Linked DNA regions of Homo sapiens. The protein of the gene in region 1 purifies or fractionates together with the protein of each later gene. This does not show direct contact. Each region holds a gene or a part of one and is shown on either strand. Other genes may lie near its edges.

Region 1 (3,656 bases):
CAAATGTATACACCCTTGTGACCACGACCCTATGGAGATACAGAACCTTCCTATCACGCTAAATACCCCCTCACGCCCCTTCCCGATCAATGTGCCCCCTGAGGCAGCCAGGGCTGCTTGCAGAAGGGCGACCTTGATCAAACACCCCAACTTGACCCAGGGTCCCCTCCACATGCCAGGCTCCTCCTCCGACTTCCCCCTGACCCCCAAGCTTCTCAGTGAACGTCCAACACCTGTTGCCTCCCCTCACCTGCCATCCGCTCCCCAGCCCCCACAACTGCCACTCATGAAGGTCACGGTGACCTTTTCATGGACACATTCCCCACTCTATTCTTAGTTGTCAACTCCCTTGACCCTCTGCAGTATTTGGCTCTGGGCACCTCGGCTTTCCCAGAGATGAGCTTGCTTGCTGTTTTGTGGCCAAGAACTGAGGTTTCTACATAGATGGGGACATTTTCCCTCCAAAAATAGGAGGAACACCTATAGAGGGAGCATTTAAACTTTTTTTAATTTAATTTGTTTTTTTTGAGATGGAGTCTTGCTCTGTTGCCGAAGCTGGAGTGCAGTGGTGTGATCTCGGCTCACTGCAACCTCCACCTCCTGGGTTCAAGCAATTCTCCTGCCTCAGACTCCCAAGTAGCTGAGATAACAGGCGCCCACGCCCAGCTAATTTTTTTTTTTTTTTTTTTGTATTTTTTAGTAGAGACAGGGTTTCACCATGTTGGCCAGGCTAGTTCTGAACTCCTGATCTCAAGTGATCCGCCCACCTCAGCCTCCCAAAGTGCAAGGATTACGGGCATGAACCACTGCACCCGGCAAACTCTTTGATTTTTAAAACTCAGTGATTTTTAAGATCCTGAGACCAGAAAGCGTGAGCGCCTCCAACCAAGGGTGGAAGAATAGCCAGTTTCAGGATTTACAAACTCTGAAAGCTGAGCTCTCCTGCCCCACACTATATTGTCTCTTTGGTAGGTCCAATTTCAAACTACAAAGCAGACTGCTGCCATCTGCTGTCACCAGCATTTCAGAGAGGAAACAGGCAAAGAGCAGGAGCGACCGATGTCAGCATAATCCCTACCTCACAGCACAGGAAACAGGCTCACAGCATGTCCCAGCTGGGAAATGGCAGAGCTGGGACTCAGACCCAGGCAGCCAGGCTCTGGAGCCATTCCTTTTAACTAGGTGACAACTGTCAGTTTTCCTAGGAAAGTCACAATCTCAGAAAAAAGGCCAATCAGGCTGGCCACGGTGGCTTAAACCTGTAATGCCAGCACTCTGGGAGGCTGAGACGGGTGGATCACAAGGTCAAGATGTTGAGACCATCCAGGCCAACATGGTGAAACCCCATCTCTACTAAAAATACAAAAATTAGCTGGGTGTGTTGGTGCGCGCCTGTGGTCCCAGCTGCTCGGGAGGCTGAGGCAGAAGAATCGCTTGAACCCAGGAGGTGGAGGTTGCAGTGAGCCCAGATCGCACCACTGCACTTCAGCCTGGCGACAGAGTGAGACTCTGTCTCAAAAAAAAAAAAAAAAAAAAGCCAATCCATTCCTTTATTTGTAGCCTTTGAAATCCAGAATGTATTTTACTCTTTCAGCACATCTCAGTAATTTCAGTAATTCAGATGCTAAATTTTCTTTTTTTTTTCTTTTTTTTTTGAGATGGAGTTTCGCTTTTATCACCTAGGGTGGAGTGCAGTGGTGTGATCTCGGCTCACTGCAACCTTCACCTCCCCGATTCAAGTGATTCTCCTGCCTCAGCCTTCCAGGTAGCTGGGATTACAGGCACCCGCCACCATGCCTGGCTAATTTTTTGTATTTTTAGTAGAGATGGGGTTTCGCCATGTTGGGCAGGCTGGTCTCGAACTCCTGACCTCAGGTGATCCACCCGCCTCAGCCTCCCAAAGTGCTAGGATTACAAGCATGAGTCACTGCACCCAGCCTTTTTTTTTTTTTTTTTTTTTTGAGACAGAGTCTCGCTCTGTTGCCCAGTCTGGAGTGCAAAATAGTGCAATCTTGGCTCACTGCAACCTCCACCTCCAGGGCTCAAGCCATTCTCCTGCCTCAGCCTCCCAAGTAACTGGAATTCCAGGCGTGTGCCACCATGCCCAGCTCATTTTTGTATTTTTATATTTGTATTTTTAGCACAGATGGGGTTTCACCACATTGGCCTGGCCATCAGATGCTAAATTTTCATTGGAGATACTTTAAAATATATATATATATATGGCTGGGAGCAGTGGCTCACGCCTGTAATCCCAGCACTTTGGGAGCCCAAGGCGGGCAGATCACCTGAGGTCAGGAGTTCAAGACCAGCCTGGCCAATGTGGCGAAACCCTGTCTCTACTAAAAATGCAAAAATTGGCTGGGTGTGGTGGCAGGTGCCTGTAGTCCCAGCTACTCGGGAGGCTGAGGCAGGAGAATCGCTTGAACCTGGGGGCAGAGGTTGCAGTGAGCCAAGATCGGGCCACTGCACTCCAGCCTGGCCAACAGATCAAGACTGTGTCTCAAAAAAAAAAAAAAAAAAAAAGCCCGGCTCTGAAGCAGACCCTGGCTCTAAGCATTTTACTGAATATCATAACACCTCAAACGGTCGAATATCACAACACTCCACTGAATATCACAGCACCTCAAATAGTTGCTATAAATGAAGAGAGGCACAGAGGCGGTGCCCTAGGTTATGCAGCTAGTGAGTCCTACAGCTGTGTTTGATCCAAGCACCTGTGGCTTTGACCATCCACTGTGCCAGCTGGCTGCAGGCGGCCTCAGGCACTGTGCTGAACTCTGGGAGTGGATCAGACAGCTAGTGTGTGTCTTGTCCTCCCCTGAAATCCTGTCTCCTTTCTCCTCCAGAGCACTGCCAAGGTTTGCCTCCTCCAAGAAGCCTGCCTCTCCGGGATCAGTTAGGTTCTCCTTGCACTTGACCGTGCCCTGAGCTACCTCCGTTACAGCCCGTCCCTCGGTATTTCGGCTCCAGAGTAGGGGCCCTGGTTGGTGGGGCCTGGGTTGAACTTCAGCCTGGGTCCCAGCATTGCCTGGCACCTGGGAGGTCTCAGAGATGTCATGATAGAATCAATGAACCACCTCCAATCCTAGGGCCAGGGGAGGTGGGTTAGCAATGAACTAACCATGCAGCCATGACATCATGCCATTAATACACTAATAATTCATTAGTAACATGTGAATCACAGAAGCACTGGAAGAACAGAAGTAATCATCACATCCTTCAACCCCTTAAGAATCAGACCTTGTGGGAAGCACTTTCCACATGTGAACACATTCGGTCCTCATGACAACCTCCCCACGTTCTGCCCATTTATTTTATTTTATGTATGTATGTATGTATGTATGTATTTATTTTGGAGACAGTCTCACTGTCACCAGGACTGAAGTATTTTTTTTTTTTTTTTTTTGGAGACGGAGTCTCACTCTGTCACCCGGACTGGAGTGCAGTGGCACGATCTTGACTCACTGCAACCTCCACCTCCCAGGTTCAAGTGATTCTCCTGCCTCAGCCTCCCAAGTAGCTGGGATTACAAGCACACACCACCATGCCTAGATACTTTTTTTGTATTTTTAGTAGAGACGGGGTTTCACCATGTTGGCCAGGCTGGGTCTTGAACTCCTGACCTCAGGTGATCTACTACCTCGGCCTCCCAA
Region 2 (2,954 bases), on another chromosome or scaffold:
GTCAGGAGTTCAAGACCAGCTTGGCCAACATGATGAAACCCTGTCTCTAATAGAAATACAAAAATTAGCTGGGCGTGATGGTGTGTGCCTGTGATCCCAGCTACTCAGGAGGCTGAGGCAGGAGAATCACTTGAACCCGGGAGGCGGAGGTTGCAGTGAGCCGAGATCGCACCACTGCACTCCAGCCTGGGCGCTGGGCAACAGAACAAGAATTGGCCAACTTGCCTACCACTTATTAATAGTACCTCTAATAGGTGAGATTAGAAAAGGTGATGTGCCAAGATGAGGAGGTGGAGTTTTATCCAGACCTCATTTATCTGCATTCCTGTTCCTTCCCAGTCACACTGGGAAGTGAGCTCCCCTGCTCTTAGCATCAGACACATCCTGGAAAGTGTGGGGCAGTGTTGCGTAAACGGATTTTTCTTACAAGTGCTATGGTGACAGAAAGCAGCCTCCTCAGTCAGCACGGCCGGCATTTATCACACATGTGGCATGCGCGCGGCACCGTGCTAACTGGATGTCCTGAGGAATTTAAGCAGGTACGATAAATGCAGTGTATACTGTGGGAGCACTTAGGGGAAGGGACTGATTTGGTCAGAGATGTTAGGAAAGAGGAAGCACCTGGTGACAGCTTCCCAGAAAACACTGCATTGATTGTTAAAGGACAAAAGCAGTTACCAGCAAGCAGGGCTGGGAATTCCACTCAGATGGCACAACCCAAGCAAAGGCGCTGAGAGACCTTGGGGAAAACTGGGATCCACAAGTACTTGGGTTTAGATTTGTGCAAAGTATGACCTAAGGAATGGCCAACTAGGCTACAGAGGGAGGTGCAGCTGGGAAGCCCTTCCACATAAGACCGTGGCTGAAGAAGAGCCAGTGAAGGGTTTAATCATGGGAGGGTGTCACATGGTCAGATTTCTGTTTTAAAGTAAATTACTCTGGTGTCTGTGTGGAGGAAGGCTGGAAGGCTGAAGGTTTGCTGGCAGAAAGACCATTCAGGAAGGAGGGCTTTGCCAAGGCAGTCATCAAGGATGACTATTTTCCATTACTATATAATTTTTTAAATTCTTCAAGGGCTCACAGTTTGATTCACAAAGTTAAGAACTATGTGGGGGCAGGAGACTCCATTTATTTAATTCTAAAAGGGAGCTGCCTCAGAACCAGATGTGGGACTTAGTCGTTTGCACCATCTGCTGTGGGTATAAGCACCGCATACCTGTTTCATTTTCTTCCTCAAAAAGTTCTCCAGGATTGGCTGTATGTTACTCAAACAATAAAAGCACACAAGTCAACAAGTATCAGAGTGCCTACTTAGACAAAGCCAATGAATACATTACCATGGATGTTGCATAAGCCAATACATCAGGGTGGGTTTTGAGAAAAGTGTGCCATAAGCTGCTCTACAGCTTTAAATCACTTTAAAGGTCACTGATGGAATTTTTCAGTCGATCCTAATATAGATTTCACAGCAAGTACCCATTGCTGTAAGTGACAGTGAACCCAGGAAAGGCAGAGATCTGCTCACCAGCATAGACCAGACCACGTGAATGGGAAGGGGCTCAAAGCATGTATGAATAGGAGTCACCATCTGGGGGCCGGGCGCAGTGGCTCATGCCTGTATTCCCAGCACTTTCGGAGGCTGAGGTAGGCAGATCACCTGAGGTCAGGACTTAGAGGCCAGCCTGGACAACATGGCAAAACCCCGTCTCTGTTAAAAATACAAAAATTAGCCGGGGAATTTTGAGAGGGAATACTTGAGAGGCTGAGGCAGGAGTATCAAGCGATTCTCCTTGATTCTTAATTTCATTGAGCCGAGATTGTGCCACTGCACTCCAGCCTGGTCTCAAAAAAAAAAAAAGTCACCATCTGGCCTTTGGTTGGTTATCCACCAAGGATATTCTGGCATCATCAGGAAGAAAATATTCCTGTTGTCCTTTCTACAACCAAGATCCTGTGATCTAGATGGCAGGTATATTTAATGGCAGAACAAACTATCCCAGCAATAATAAAGGATGAGAACCACATGACTCTTTGGCTAGAGGCTTCTCTCTCTTTAAAAGAGTTGCCTGAACATCTTTGGCCTTAAGCAGACCACATCCTCTCTTAGATGGAATAGAGTTAAGAAATAGGCCCACACATATGGCTGACAGTTGATTTTCAACAAAGGTGCCAAAATAATTCACTGGATAAAGTATAATCCTGCAAATGGTATCTGCTATTGGATATCCATATGCAAAAAAGTGAATCTCGATCCTTACCTCATACCATACACAATAATCCAAAATGGATCATAGACCCAAAATGTAAGAGCTAAAGTATAACCTTCTGTAAGAAAACATAGGAGAAATTCTTTGTGCCCTTAAGCTAAGTAAAGACTTCTTGGCCAGGCACGGTGGCTCACGCCTGTAATCCCAGCATTTTGGGAGGCTGAGGCAGGCGGATCACCTGAGGTCGGGAGTTCAAGACCAGCCTGACCAACGTGGAGAAACCCCGTCTCTACTAAAAATACAAAATTAGCCGGGCGTGGTGGCGCATGCCTGTAATCTCAGCTACTCGGGAGGCTGAGGCAGGAGAATTGCTTGAACCCAGGAGGCAGAGGTTGCACCATTGCACTTCAGCCTGGGCAACAAAAGCAAAACTCCATCTCAAAAAAAAAAAAAAAAAAAAAGAAAGAAAGAAATTCTTAGGACACAAAAAGCATGAACCACAGCAGAAAACATTGAGTACACATATATCTGATAAAGGACTTACATCTAGGCTATACAAAGAACTCTTACAACTCAGTGAGAAGATAAAATTTAAATAGACAAAAATTTGAATAGACACTACATCAGAGAAGGCATACAAATGACAACTACATGAAAAGATGTTCAAAGCATTCATCATTAGGGAAATGTAAATTTAAACCAACCACAATGAGATACCACCACACTATCTAGAATGGCTACAACTAA
Region 3 (3,656 bases), on another chromosome or scaffold:
CCTGCCAAGTAGCTGGGACCAGCTACTCAGTATCATGGTATTGGCTTCTAGCACATTGGGTAGCAAGTCCCTTTTACTCGGTAACACTATTTCCAGTCCCCAAAATGAGATGACAGGTGAACAAACAATTCCCAATTTTAACAAGCAAACTGCTAAGAACTCAGGTGCTTTAGCAGTGTCAGACTAAATAATCTAATTAAAAATAAAACATGATGTTGGCATGTCAGATTTGTTTTCAATCTCCTGATAATGTTTTAACATGAACAGTTCAAATTATGTCTTACAGTGAAAGGGTTTTTGTTTCATTTTTGAGATGGGGTCTCACTCTGTCACTCAGGCTGGAGTACAGTAGCACGACCTCAGCTCACTGCAACCTCCACCTCCTGGGCTCAAGTCATCTTCCCACCTCAGCCTCCCAAGTAGCTGGGACCACGCCCAGCTAATTTTTTGTATTTTTGGTAGAGATGGGTTTTCGCCATGTTGCCCAGATTGGTCTTGAACTCCTGAGCTCAAGTAATCCACCTGCTCTGGCCTCCCAAAGTGCTGGGATTACAGGCATGAGCAACCGTGCCTGGCCTGAACCACTGCGCCCAGCCACAGTGAAAGTTTTATGAAGGAAATGTTAAACGTAGAGTTGTAATATGACCTAGCAATTCCACTCCTAGGCATCTATCCAAGAGAGATGAAAACAAATCCATGCAAAACTTGTACATGAATGTTCATAGCAGCATTATTCATAATAACCAAGAAGTGGAAACAATCCAAGTGTCTATCAACTGATGAATGAATTAACAAAATGTGGTCTGTTCTTACAAAAAGGAATGAAGTGCTGATCCATGCCAAACATGGATGAATCTTGAAAACATTATGCTAAATCAAAGAAGCCAGTCACAAAAGACCACATATTCTATGATTCTGTTTTTATGAAATGTCCAAAATAGGCAAATCCAGAGATGGAAAGTAGATTCGTGTTTGACAGGGGCTGGGCATAGTGGAGAATAAAGAGTGATTGCTAATGGATATGTAGTTTCCTTCTAGAGTGATAAAAATATTCTAAAAATAGAGGTAATAATTGCATACTTTGAACATACTAAAACATTCCTGAATTGCACATTTTAAAAAGGTGAATTTTAAGGTGAATTATCTCTCAATGAGCTCATTTCATTTCATTTCACTTTATTTTATTTTATTTTGACAGAGTCTTGCTCTGTCGCCCAGTGCAGTGGTGTGATCATAGCTCATTGCAGCCTCTATCTCGTGGGTTCAAGTGATCCTCCCACCTCAGCCTTCCGAGTAGCTGGGACTACAGGCACACACCACCATGCCCAGCTAGTTTTGTATTGTTTGTAGAGACGGGGTTTCACCATGTTGCCCAGGCTGGTCTCAAACTCCTAGGCTCAAGCAATCTTCCCGTCTTGGGCTCCCAAAGTGCTGGGATCACAGGCGTGAGCCACCGCACTGGGCCAAAGCTGTTATTTTAAAATAAATAAATAAAACTATGGGGAAGAAAAAAATGTCCTTTGGATTAATTTGTTTCCCTGTGCCTTTCCAAATATATATTGTGAATGCTGATAATGATACCTTCTCTGTCTTGATTTGAGGAAAATAGATGAAGTATGGCTGCCTCTGGTTTGTTCCCTGACATCGCTGCCACTCATAGAATCCATCTGCTAAAACGACACAGCGTCTTCCCTTTCCCAGAGGCACCTGAGGGAAAATGTGAGCAAGATATGGTCTTAGTGATACAATCATGTTTCACAGGCTGCCATTACTTGGAGAACTTGAATTAAAATCTGAGGTTTGGGCCAGGCGGGTGGCTCACGGCTGTAATCCCAACACTTTGGGCGGCCGAGATGGGAGGATCACTTGAGGTCAGGAGTTCGAGACCAGCCTGGCTAACAAGGTGAAAGCCCATCTCTACTAAAAATATAAAAATCAGCTGGGCGTGGTAGTGCACACCTGTAGTCCCTGCTACCTGGGAGGCTAAAGCACGAGAATCACTTGAACTTGGAGGCAGAGGTGGCAGTGAGCCAAGATCATGCCACTGCACTCCAGCCTGGGCAAAAGTATGAGACTCCATCTCAAAATAAATAAACAAACAAATAAATACATAAAATCTGAGGTCTGCCAATGTATGACCTTAAAACAGTTATTTAATTTCTCTGTACCTCTCTTTTCTTTTTTTTTTTTTTTTTGAGACGGAGTCTTGCTCTGTCGCCCAGGCTGGAGTGCAGTGGCGTGATCTCGGCTCACTGCAAGCTCCACCTCCTGGGTTTACTTAAGCCATTCTCCTGCCTCAGCTTCCCGAGTAGCTGGGACTACAGGCGTCCGCCACCACGCCCGGCTAATTTTTTGTATTTTTAGTAGAGACGGGGTTTCACCGTGTTAGCCAGGATGGTCTCGATCTCCTGACCTCGTGATCCGCCCATCTTGGCCTCCCAAAGTGCTGGGATTATAGGTGTGAGCCACCGTGCCCGGCCACTCTCTTTTCTTATGTATAAAGAAAGTCACAACTCACATAGATGTTGAAAAGATTAAATAATGTACATAAAAGCAATCACCTCTTTTCTAACAAATAGGTACTTGTCATAGCTAGTCTTCAAAGGTGCCTCCCCAATGAAGCATGCTTCCCAGTATTCACACCCTATGTAGACACCTCCCACACTGAATTTGGGCTGGCTCTGTGTAACCCATAGAATGCAACAGAAGTAGGCCGGGCGTGATAGCTCACACCTGTAATCCCAGTACTTTGGGAGGCCCAGACAGGTGGATCACTTGAGCCCAGGAGTTTGAGACCAGCCTGGGCAACATAGCCAGACCTTGTCTCTATTTAAAAAAAAAAATTAAACAATAACAATAAAAGAATACAGCATAAGTAATGCTGTATGACTGCCAAGATTAAGTGATGCTGTAAGACAAAGGCTTATATCTTCTGTCCTGCTCTGTTGGATCATGAGCTCTGGGGTAAATGAGTCACCGTAACAGAAGCCTGGCTACCCTGACACCCTCGAGCTAGGCATATGGAAAGCCTTCTAGTTGTTCTAGTCATCCCAGCTGAAGGGTCAGATGTGGGTGAAGAAGTCATCTTGGACATCCAGCCTCAGCTGCCATCTAACTGCAACATGAGAACTTCCAAGTGAAAACTGCCCAGATGAGCCCAGTCAACCCAGAGAATATGAGAGATAATGTTTATCATTTTGTTTCACACTACTAAGTCTGGTGTGGTTTGTTATGTAGTAACAAAATAGCATTCCACATTAACAACTGGGAACATTCTTTTTTGTGTTATTTATTTATTTTTGGTTGTCCTCTGTAGGCTAGGATGGAAACACCCTTTGGAACCTTATTTCTGAGGTATACGGGGCACTAATAGCTACCAGCCACCTACCTTAAATGACCGTTTCTCCATTACGGTATCACTACGACAGTTGGTAGTATTGAACTGCAGCTTGGAAGGATCACTTTCTTTGAACCAAGAAGGGACCAAGCCCCAGCGCATGGGAGCAATGATACGCTCAGATGAGTCTGCATCCTGCCACGGAGAGAAGATCTAGTGAGGAGATCATAATGAAATTCTAACCTAATTTAACATATGTATTTATTACATTATTTAGGAGTATTGAAATATAAAGAATTCAAGATTATTTTTAAACAGG

Evidence for each region.
Region 2: the proteins of NOSIP (region 1) and BCAR3 purify together in Homo sapiens (co-immunoprecipitation; one large-scale study listed by IntAct). This does not show direct contact.
Region 3: the proteins of NOSIP (region 1) and HMCES fractionate together in Homo sapiens (co-fractionation; one large-scale study listed by BioGRID). This does not show direct contact.

The regions. Positions count from the first base shown.
Region 1 is NC_000019.10:49,570,468-49,574,123, forward strand, and holds part of NOSIP (nitric oxide synthase-interacting protein), read right to left. Parts: intron 1-3,656. UniProt on the Homo sapiens protein: E3 ubiquitin-protein ligase that is essential for proper development of the forebrain, the eye, and the face. Catalyzes monoubiquitination of serine/threonine-protein phosphatase 2A (PP2A) catalytic subunit PPP2CA/PPP2CB.
Region 2 is NC_000001.11:93,564,005-93,566,958, reverse strand, and holds part of BCAR3 (breast cancer anti-estrogen resistance protein 3), read left to right. Parts: intron 1-2,954. UniProt on the Homo sapiens protein: Acts as an adapter protein downstream of several growth factor receptors to promote cell proliferation, migration, and redistribution of actin fibers.
Region 3 is NC_000003.12:129,288,730-129,292,385, reverse strand, and holds part of HMCES (abasic site processing protein HMCES), read right to left. Parts: intron 3,533-3,656; coding exon 3,389-3,532; intron 1,708-3,388; coding exon 1,582-1,707; intron 1-1,581.